2 separate regions of the Homo sapiens genome follow, and region 2 is linked to region 1. The links come from fine-mapping of genetic effects on gene expression. A gene starts in region 1. The other region holds a variant in brackets. All regions are shown on one strand. Distances are from middle to middle.

Evidence for each region.
Region 2: its variant is fine-mapped to the expression of TDRKH in whole blood (TOPMed, PIP above 0.99).

The regions. Positions count from the first base shown.
Region 1 is chr1:151,788,263-151,793,641 of GRCh38, forward strand. It overlaps TDRKH (tudor and KH domain containing), which reads right to left and starts at 2,238. Exons shown (of 13, transcript NM_001083965.2): 1 at 2,118-2,238. TDRKH-AS1 (TDRKH antisense RNA 1) reads left to right here and starts at 2,487. Exons shown (of 2, transcript NR_146292.1): 1 at 2,487-2,983. RefSeq lists a silencer at 1,923-2,182.
Region 2 is chr1:151,761,858-151,767,236 of GRCh38, forward strand. MRPL9 (mitochondrial ribosomal protein L9) reads right to left here and starts at 1,639. Exons shown (of 7, transcript NM_031420.4): 1 at 1,470-1,639; 2 at 1,133-1,289; 3 at 519-643; 4 at 248-298. The coding sequence starts at 1,622. OAZ3 (ornithine decarboxylase antizyme 3) reads left to right here and starts at 4,798. Exons shown (of 5, transcript NM_016178.2): 1 at 4,798-5,031; 2 at 5,306-5,379. The coding sequence starts at 4,865. It also overlaps a transcript of TDRKH not described here. RefSeq lists an enhancer at 1,410-1,789. The variant A/G (reference allele first, on the strand shown) is at 2,796.

The sequences.
Region 1 (5,379 bases):
CTACATGAATGAACTGCACTAAATGGACATTTATTCAAGCCAATAAATATCGAATTCTGATGTGTGCTTGACCCTCGGGACACAACAGTCAAGATAGATTTGGCAGCTGCCTTCATGGAGTTTCCTGTCTGGCAAGGAAGATCTTGACAGGCAGGAGTCTTTAGGTCTTAAGGGCTTTGGGAAACTGAAATCTAGCCCTGTGAACAAGAATAAACTGGATCTGTATTTTCATGCTGTCTGCTTTTAAAAACTGGCCATAATTGATGCTTATGGGGCATAGAAATCACAAGATTTTATAACTAGAAGGGACTACAGAACTTATTTGATTCCATTAATAACGTTGCAATTTGGGAAACTGCGGCTAAGGGATAGAAAAGGATTGATCTAAGATCACACAGCTCATTAGTCATTTCTACACAATACAGTGTGCAATAGAAATAAGTCTGTTTTGATGGCCAGTCATAATCACACCTCTTTACAGAGGCCCAAAGGACTAGCAGCACTTTTGTTTTCCAGTTCTGACACTATCAAGATCAAGTGCAGAGGGGTCTCTGCAGCCAAGGCCCCTCAATCTCGACCCCCTACACTGGGTTGAATTACATTGCTATGGGTTTCCACAGAATCCCCAATATCCCTTGATAACACATGCCATGCTTGTCATTCTTGATTAACATCTGTGTCCGTGGTGAGGAGAATGAATTGAAGGCAGCAACCGTGGCTGCAGGAGACCAATCAGGGCCTAGTCCAGGTGTCAATGATGGAGATGGAGAACAGATGAATTGGAGAGTTTGTTGTTGTTTATTTAGAGACAGAGCCTTGGTCTGTCACCCAGGATGGAATGCAGTGAATGATAATAGCTCACTGCAGCCTTGAACTCCCGCAGTCGTCCGGCGTAGCTGAGATTATAGGTGCGGTTTTGGCCGACTTCTATTTGAAGCAAAAGGTAAATTTCACTAACTCCTCTTCAAACATTACAAATGAATTTGTGCTAATTGAGTTATCAGCTGATGTCTCAAAAAATGAGACTCTACTTGATCTGTCACTATGGTTTTGTTCACAATTTTCATATCCTTTCAGCTATAAGTTTCTCTTAAAGAGAAATGGAAAATAATATAATGTAAACGGGGATAACTGCATAGTACTGACTGCTAGCTTGTGTTTGATTTTATTACTTAAAAATTGAATGGGAAGGAGGAAAATACTAGAACTTAAGACCACAGTTTCTAGGGGAAGCTAAGAAGAGAAGATGAGGATCATTGTTCAGTGAGGAATGTGGTTAGATAATGGTTTTCAGTGAAAGCTAACTTTGAAATTTCCTGACATTTGTATTGAACAATTGCCAAAAACTATCTGATATGCATCGCTAAGGCTTACTTTATCATTTAAAATGACAGGAGTCAAATAGGATGTGATGAGAAGTCAAATCACATTGTTAGCTCCATGAAAGCATAGATAACTCATTCCAGTATCTCCTAATAACCAGAACCTACAAAGAACCTACAACATGGTGACATGCTTGAATCGAAGCAGCTCAATGTTCTCATCCTTGGTACGTTTATTTTAAATTCACGAGAAAAAAAAAAGTGTCAACCCCTTTCTCTCAAAACAAGGAAAGGGTCTAAAAGTCAGTCTTTGAAATAGGGGTCTCCAGCCAACCCCCACGATGATACCTGGATTAAGGAATGAGGGATACTGGAAAAACAAAAACCCCAATGTATTATTCTGACGACTGTAAACAGCCATCCTATTAGCGATAACTAAAGAAAAAGCTGGGGAAAGTTAAAGGCAAAGTGATATACGGATGGCAGCTCTCAGTCTCAAAAAGGCCCAGTGGAAGAGTCTGAACTGACTCAGGGCAAACACAAACGCTCCCGCACCGGGTCCGTTGTGGCGTAAGCGGGTGACTGGAGCATCTTCCTCAGATACAGTTACGAGTTCCCAGTGGGTCAAGTTGCCCCCGAGCGGCGTCTCACAGCCCAGGGCTCTGACTCCCCCGCTGCGCCCCACATCCTTCCCTCGCCCCGGGGCACGCCAGACCCCTCCCTTCCCTCGCTCCCGCATTTCCGTCTCCTAGTGGCCAGGGCTGCCCATGACCCTGTCTTTCCCACTCCCCAAACCTTCGGTCTCCATCCTCGCCTTTACCGCTGCTCCAGTCAGCCGTCGAGTGCGCCGCCTCGCGCCTCACCCCAGCTGCAGCCACCAGCGCCGCCGCCTCCCACTCACACCACCACAGTGAGCCCCGCCGGCGGCGCTTCAGCCGCCACTTCCCCGCCCCCGCAGCCCGACAGCACCAATCAACACCCTGCTCGCAGTCCGACCAATCGCCTTCTCCCGTCACAACCAATCCTTCCGCGGGCTGCCCCTGAGCGACGTGGCTGCTGCTAGCCGCTGCCCAATTACCCGGATGGAATCCAAAGCAGGCCCACCCTGTCAGCCAATAAGATCCAGGAAAAGCAGATGTTGTTAACTGAGACCGCACCTGCTGAGAATTAAACAGCCAATTACAAGCTTCCCGGCGTCCTCGCAGACCACCTCTAGGCCAATTACCGAGGAGTTTTCTATCTTCTAACCCTTGGAGGAAAATCTGCGCTCCAGCAGCTGGGACCGAGGCATGAGAGCGTTGAATCATGAGTGGCACCGTTCGCAAAAATTGGTGTCTTTGTACAAAGACAGTGCCACAACACAACTCAGTGACCATCGGGAGAGCAGCCTCATGATGGGCGATGCTCCATCAGTTTTCTCTTGCGATCTTTTGCATAGATCGGTCCCGCCCCGCATATGGCGATGAGGACTCAAGAGACACGGAAAACGTTTTCTTTCTGGAAAACATGAAATAGGCTTTGTAGATGGACAGGAAGTCAAGGGACAAGCGGTGCGCCGCAGAGAGCGAGGACCCACTCTTCTATTCCTTTGCGGAGGCACGGACACACGGTGTGGCCCGAAACAGCGGCAGGAGAGTGAGACCCGGGCTCCGACCGCGGTGGTAAGGGGGCGGCGGGCCATAGGGGCGCCAGGGGCCCACCCTTCCCTGGGGATTCGAGGAAACGGGTCGAGGCGACAGCGTGAAGGCCTACGCCGGGGGAGGGGGTGGTGGCGGGGGGCGTTTCTGTGGGGGCGAGGAAGGGAGCGGGTCTCCGCAGGCGGAAGTTTGCTTTGGAAGATTTTATTCCAGACGCTGTCCTGGTCCCTGGACGGTTAGGAACGGTTGGGTCCTGCTACTGCCTCCGTGGGGCAGGGAGCCTCGCGAGACCAGCACTGCGCCCTACTCGGTCCACCCTGTCCCCGCTCCGCGCTAGGGGCTCACCCTGGGAACAGGGGTCGGGCGATCCTGGTCATTGGGGGATCTTCCGCACTAGCTTCCATCACAATACCTGGCAGGTGATGAGCAATAAATATTTGCTGAAAGAACGCAAGGTTGTATCTTTTGTCAATTAGGCAGATGCCTTTGGGCCTCAGGTTTTGCTTTCTATTAATATAAAAATGTGTATGCGTTTTGAATAAGTAATACATTTACATTCTACAAAATTCAGAAGAAACAAGGTTATTATAGTGAATAAATTTTCCTTCCTTCAAGGCAACTAGGGTTACCAGTTTCTTGTGAAAAATTTCACAAGATATTCTATAGTTAACGTGTGTATATGTGTAATATATAAAGTGTATATATATATACACACACATATATTTTTTTAACCCAGTTGATAACATACATACTATTTTGCAACTTTCTTTGATACAGTCTGGAAATGTTTCCGTAGCAGCATATACGTATCTGCCTCATAGTGATAGTTTCATAGTATGCCTGAGGGATATATGAAGATATATTTAACCAGTCCTTTAACATTTGATTGATATGCAAGGATACTTCATTTCCCTCTTGCATATGTGTATGATAAATACTTAGAAATGCAAGTGCCAAGTTAAAGAAATGTGTGCATTGTTTTTTCATTTGGATAGATAAAATTTTGTAAATTCCCTTCCTCCCACAAAGATTTTTATAATTTTAATCCCACCAGCAATTTTTGAAAATGATTTTAGTTAGTATTACCAAATTGCCTTCCCTGGAAATTTTACCAATTTTGTCTCCTGTCAGCAATGTATGAAAAGAACCTGTTTGATAGCACACTGGTGCTGTTAAACTTCCTGATTTTTGACAATCTGATAGTGTAAATGCTATCTCATTGCAAGATAAAATTTCATTGCTCTTATAAGTAAAGTTGAGCATCTTTTAATATATTTAAATGGCAATTTTTTTGTAAATTCTCTGTTTTTATATTCTGTTCATATTTTTATTGGTTATAGGGTCATTTCTTAATACTTGCTGTTTGTATATAAGTTAAAAGTATTTTCCCCGGCCAGGTGTGGTGGGTCACGCCTGTAATCCCAGCACTTTGGGAGGCTGAGGCAGGCTAATCACCTGAGGTCAGGAGTTCAAGACCAGCCTGGCCAACATGCTGAAACCCCGTCTTTATTAAAAATACAAAAATTAGCCGGTTATGGTGGCAAGCGCTTGTAATCCCAGCTACTTGGGAGACTGAGGCAGGAGAATCACTTGAACTGGGGAAGCGGTGGTTGCAGTGAGCCGAGATTGCCACTGCACTCCAGCCTGGGCAACAGAGCGAGACCCCATCTCCAAAAAAAAAAAAAAAAAGTATGTCCCTTTTCCCAGTTTGTTCTATGTATATTGTTTATACATATAACAAGTATTTTCCCTTTTCCAAGTTTGTTCTATGTATATTGCATATTTTGAGGCTGGTCTCCAACTCCTGACCTCAGGTGATCAGCCTGCCTCAGCCTCCCAAAGTGCTAGGATTACAGGCCTGAGCCATTGCCCTCAGCCTGTTTATGGTTATTCTTTGCAAATGTTAAAAATTTTTATGTAATTGAATTTATCAATATTTTCTTTGATAATTTCTGGGTTTCTTTCTTTCTTTTTTTGAGGCAGAGTCTCATTCTGTCGCCCAGGCTGGAGTGCAGTGGCATGATCTTGGCCCACTGTAACCTCTGCTTCCCAGGTTGAAGAGATTCTCGTGCCTCAGCCTCCTGAGTAGTTGGGATTACAGGCATGTACCACCATACCTGGGTAATTTTTGTATTTTTTAGTAGACTCGGAGTAGTTTTGCCATGTTGGCCAGACTGGTCTCAAACTCCTGGCCTCAAGTGATCCACCCGCCTTAGCCTCCCAAAGTATTGGTATTACAGGCGTGAGCCACTGTGCCTGGCCAACTTCTGTGTTTCATATAATTTTTAGTAAAGTCTCCCACTATTTAAGATTATTCTTAAAGCTCCTATGTTTTTTTAAAAAGTACTTTGATAGTGTCTTTGTATATGTAAATATTTGATTCATCTGGAATTTATTTTGGTGTAAAGGTGTGAGATAGA
Region 2 (5,379 bases), 26 kb before region 1:
CTCAGACTATTCCATGGGTTCCCTGATTCCCAGATTGGGACCTCCCTTGGTACTTTAAGGCACTTCACCCAACACATCAGGGATCTCCCAAGAGGTCTCCATACCTGTTTTGTGGGGCAGCCACAACACTTCCCCTTTCTCCCACTCTTGGGTCTGCAATCAGGAGACCTCAAGGGAATCAGGGAGACTCTCAGGGTGAGGTTGGTAAGTCTTGTGACAAATAAACACTTTTTATGTTTCTACTCACCGCCTCACCTGCCTTGGTCTGGATCTTCTCTAATTTTCCTTCTTGTCTCAGCTAGAAAAGAAAGTTAAAGATGAAAAGCAGTAAAAGAAAAATGAGCCCATGTTAAATAGCATCAAACTATTCCTATGTTGGACATTGGCTGGGCTTCTGCATTCCTGTTCTTCTAGTTCCTATTTCATTTTCAAGTTAAGTTAAATGTCAAAGGGAAGGAAGCTGCAAGAGAAAAGAAGTTTTATCTCCCCAAGTCTCTCTGTCCTTCCTTTGAGCTCACCAATTTCTCCTCTTCAAACAGCTTCTTGTTTTCAGGGGATGCATATACAGCCAGTCCCTGAGGAAGGAGTCGATTCCGGCCTAAAGATTTCTTCACTGAGACCAGGTCACCCCGGACTCCAACATCTGTCAATTAGAACAGAGACAGGGGAATTAGAACCATCTAGGAGTCCCTAAAGAAAAGATGTCAAAAAGAGAAGCACCTCTTAGTTTCTCACAGTGCTTATTTTTCCTAAAAGAAATGCTAATTCATATTCACTAGGAACAAGATTTAAGAGACTGCTAATTAGTTTCTTTAGAACTTGATGTATAAATTTAATATCCCCTGTATAGAGGGAGTTGTCGTCCCATGGAGGATTTCAGTATCTGTGGCACAAATTGTCAGGCTCCTCTCCCCACACACTGTTAATGATGTTGCTGCCTTTATGTTTTAATTTTCAATGCTGGAGGCCAGTGTCACAATCACAATAGTTTTTATGGCTTCCTCTTCTCACATATAGAGTTGGATTGTTTCCACAAAGAAAAAGCAAGGCAAATAGTTGAGGGGGACGGGCTAGAAAAAGCTGATGCCAAACCGGACCAGCCTGAGAGGAAGCGCCTCGGCCCGGGCCTTACTCTCCACCGACTGCGTCAGGATGAGCTCCAGGTTTTCTTTGGGCCGATGCTTCGTGTCCTCCACCAGCTTATAGACGCGATGTCGCCGGTGCAGGCGCGGCTTCCGGCCCTCCCCGGCCAGCGGTACCTTCCACCAGCGCTCCACGATGACCGTGCCCTGGCGGCCAGGAAAGCGACGGTAAGCTAGTCTCCACAAGGAACACCCTCTCCCTCCACCACGGCCGCCAGCCCCTCAAGGAAAGCCCGCCACCCCCACATCGGCCCCCTCCAGGTCCCAGTGCGCCTCCAGAAACAATACTCGAGCGTATCTACCCCCTACCCCAGACTCAGCCCTCACCCGATTTTGAGAAAGGCTGAAGTTGCAGGCCAGGTCAGGGGCGTTCCCTTCATGTCGCGGCCGCAGTAGCTCCTGGACGCCTCCCCGAAGCAGCCGTCCAGCGCCCGCCCGCAGCAGAGCTCTGCCCGGGGCCGTGACAACGGGCGCCGCCATGTTCACAGGCACAGAATGAGACCTGAGGGAGGACCCCGGCGTCGGCGGCAGGAAAGGCCCCCGCCAGTGCTGCCTGCGGCGCGCCGGTACGGCTGAGCGAAAGTATGGGGAGCGGGCCGGGGAACAGATGGCACCGCGGCTTGCCTATTTTTGCTTTTTGGCAGAGGTGACGGACGCCTAGAATTACTGACTGATAATGGAATGAGTGTTAGGTGGACTGACGCCGGAAAAGACGCTCTTCCTCTTGAAAGTGTGGGCTTTGCTGTAGCTCCAGTTGCTGGGCTAACTTTTAATTCTAACGTTCTGTGATGACTGGATACTGACCGGAGAATGAATGATGCTCTCACTTTTCCTTACTTCAAATCTACCTAAAAGTGGTAAAGGATGGGATCCCTTGGAAAACTCTGCCAGCTCCAGGAGGAGCCTGACCCTTAATCATTATACTGCAGTATTTAAGCTAATAAAGGAGAATTCTAAATCACAAGCTATGTAAACCGTAGAAAAAAAAGCAACTATGGTAAGGCCGCGACAGTTCCCTCTGGGGAGGGTCTCAGTACTGGACAGAAGACCATAAAAACTGGATGAAAGAAGGTCCATTTGGCAGAGATTATGGAAAGACTGGCCCTTAAACATACTGACCAGTCCTCCTTCCTCCTAAATACACTACTTGGCCTCCTGGACACCGGTCTTCTTCAGTCTCGTTTGCTGATTTCTCCTTTTCTCCCCGCTTCTTAGAATGCCCTCGGGACTCCGTTTTTGAACCTTTACTCTTCTCAGTATACACTCACTGTTGATCTCATCCAGTCTCGTGGCTTACAATACCATTTATAAGCCAATGACTCCCAAATTTCTAGTTCCATCCTAGACATCTCCCAAACTCGTCTCAAATATTCAACTGTTTATTCGTCATTTTCCTCTTACGTATCCAAAGGACACCTCAAAGTTAACTGTCCCAAACTAATTTATTTATTCCCCCCTCGCCCCCAAAACTGCCCCATCTGCAGCCTTTTTCCTCTCAGTTGACAGAAACTCCATTCTTTCCATTCTAACTCTTTTCTCTCATACTCCATCAGGAAATCCTGTGGGTTCTACCTTTAAATTACAGATAGTCCCTGACTTGGATTTACAATTTTTGAGTTTGTGATGGTGTGAAAGTGATGTGCACTCAGTAGG[A/G]CATCAATAAGTTACATGAAATATTCAACACTTTATTATAAAATAGGCTTTGTGTTAGATGATTTTACCCAACTGTCGGATAAGTTGTCTGAGCATGTTTAAGATAGGCTAGGCTAAGCTATGGTGTTTGGTAGGTGTATTATATGCATTTTCAACTTATGATACTTTCAACATACGATGGGTTTATCAGGACATAACCCTATTTTAAGTCAAGGAGCACTTGTATTTCCAGAATCCAGCCACTTGTCACCACCTCCAATGCTCTACCTTGGAATAAGACACTACTTTCTCCTGGATTACTGCAATAGTCCCCTAAAAGATATCCCTTAATTCTCTACAGTTTATAATTCTATGTAGCTTATTTATAGCAGCCAGAATGATCTTTTTAAAGCATAAGTCAGATCATGTCATTCTTCCACCCAAAACTTTGTAATGACTTCCTCCTTTACTCAAGGTAAAAGAAAAAGGCCATCAGATGGTCTACAAGGCCATACATACTCTGACCCCATTAGCTCCTCTCTAATTTACACTGCTCCACCCACAGTGGCCTCCTTGTTTCTTGAAAACACCAGGCACGTTTCCTGCTCAGGGCTTTTGCACTGGCTGCTTTTGCGTTGGATGCTCTTATCCTCAGATGCTGGCTTGGTTAACAACCTCACATCCTCCAAGTGTTTAATTAAATGTCAGTTTTTTTCAGTGAGAGATCACCCTATTTCTTACTGTAACCCTGACCCATCCCCTTCACATTCCTTATCTTCCTTTATCTTGCTCTATTCCCCCCACCCCATAGCAGTTACCTTCTAACATACTAAACAATTTACTATGTTTATTTTCTAGGTTTGTCCTCTCACTTTTAGAAGATACGTTCCATAGGGCAGGGATTTGTTTTGTTCACTGATGTATCATCTCAAGCACCTAGAATAGTGCCTGGCTAATAGTAGACCCTCAATAAATATTTGTTGAATGGATAAATATGCAGAGGTCTCAAAGTGGCAGTCCCAGAACCAAATTTTGCTTACAATGTTGTTTTTTTATCAACAATTTTTTAGTAGTTGATTTTTTTTTTTTTTTGAGTTGGAGTCTCGCTATGTTGCCCAGGCTGGAGTGCAGTGGCACGATCTCAGCTCACTGCAAGCTCCGCCTCCTGGGTTCACGCCATTCTCCTGCCTCAGCCTCCCGTGTAGCTGGGAATACAGGCGCCTGCCACCACGCCCGGCTAATTTTTTGTATTTTTAGTACAGACAGAGTTTCATCGTGTTAGCCAGGATGGTCTCGATCTCCTGACCTCGTGATCCGCCCGCCTCGGCCTCCCAAAGCGCTGGGATTACAGACGTGAGCCACCGTGCCCGGCCCAGTAGTCGATATTTTTTAAAATTGGTGAGATTTACTACAAAACTGTCTTTCCAGTTTCTGTTCAAAAATCATACGATACAGCACCATCAAGTCTGCATTCTTGCATGGAACTGGATGGAATTGAGTTGTGTGGACTTCCTTTAGATAACGTGTGAGCTTTCCTATTTTGCTACAGCCCTACCCTGCCACTCCACTAATTTCCATAAGCTGTCTAGGCCCCTGAAGGGGCCTAGACAATTAGTTTGCAATTCCTACCCTACAAGGATCCTGGGTTATTAAGGGTAGGGATGATAATAAAAATACTCAACTGGTATGAACTGGGAACCAACTAATCAGGTCACCACTGGATCAGAGCCTTGGAAGAGTCAGATACCAACTCTTTACTTGCTGGATTTTGGGGGAAGGGGAGTGTCCACAGAGGAGCAGGGTGGGTGGGCACAAGTGCTCAGGCAGGGCTTTTGGCCAACCAGTACAGAAGTCTTCAAGTTCTATTTTTTAATCATTCATACAGCCATAACATGCATACTAGTCGAATATGAGCCTTGGATAAGGGATTAGGGTAGATAAGCAGCAGAGTGGAGTCCTGAGGTGACATAAGGGCTGACCCCTTATCCATGTCATAGTGCCCACTGGGTCACAATGCCACCAGGTTGCCTAAACCTCTGCCACCCACCTGTGAACTTCACTTTGCCACAGGGAGGCACTGAACTGAAAAACTGCCTTGTAAGAGGTGTCGCCCCTCTGTCTACTCCCTTTCTTATATCAAGAGGGGAAAAACACGTAACTACCTCTACCCGATCTGGTCACCATACGCCTATTACCTTTACTGTTACAAGTACCGGATCACTCTCCGGGAGAAGATGCTGCCTCGTTGTTATAAAAGGTACTTGTTTTCATCTCTATTTGTAGTTGTTTATATAAAATGTAAGGAAAAAGTAAAAGAATTTGAAAGAATTTCCCAAATGGCAAGAAATAACAACAGAATAGGGGGTGGAAAGCTGGCATGGAACTTTAGAATTTTTCCATCTGGTTGGGCCCAGGAACATAGAAACAGGCTGGACAACAGAAAATACAGAAGATCATGCCAGAGCCTGGTACTGTGTATCTTCCCACCTCAGATTCCAAGATAAACTAATTTGGGTCTCTTTCCCAACCAGCATCACTTATAAGGAAGAGGAGGACTTGACACTCCAGCCCCGTTCCTGCCTCCAGTGCTCCTGAGTCCCTAGTA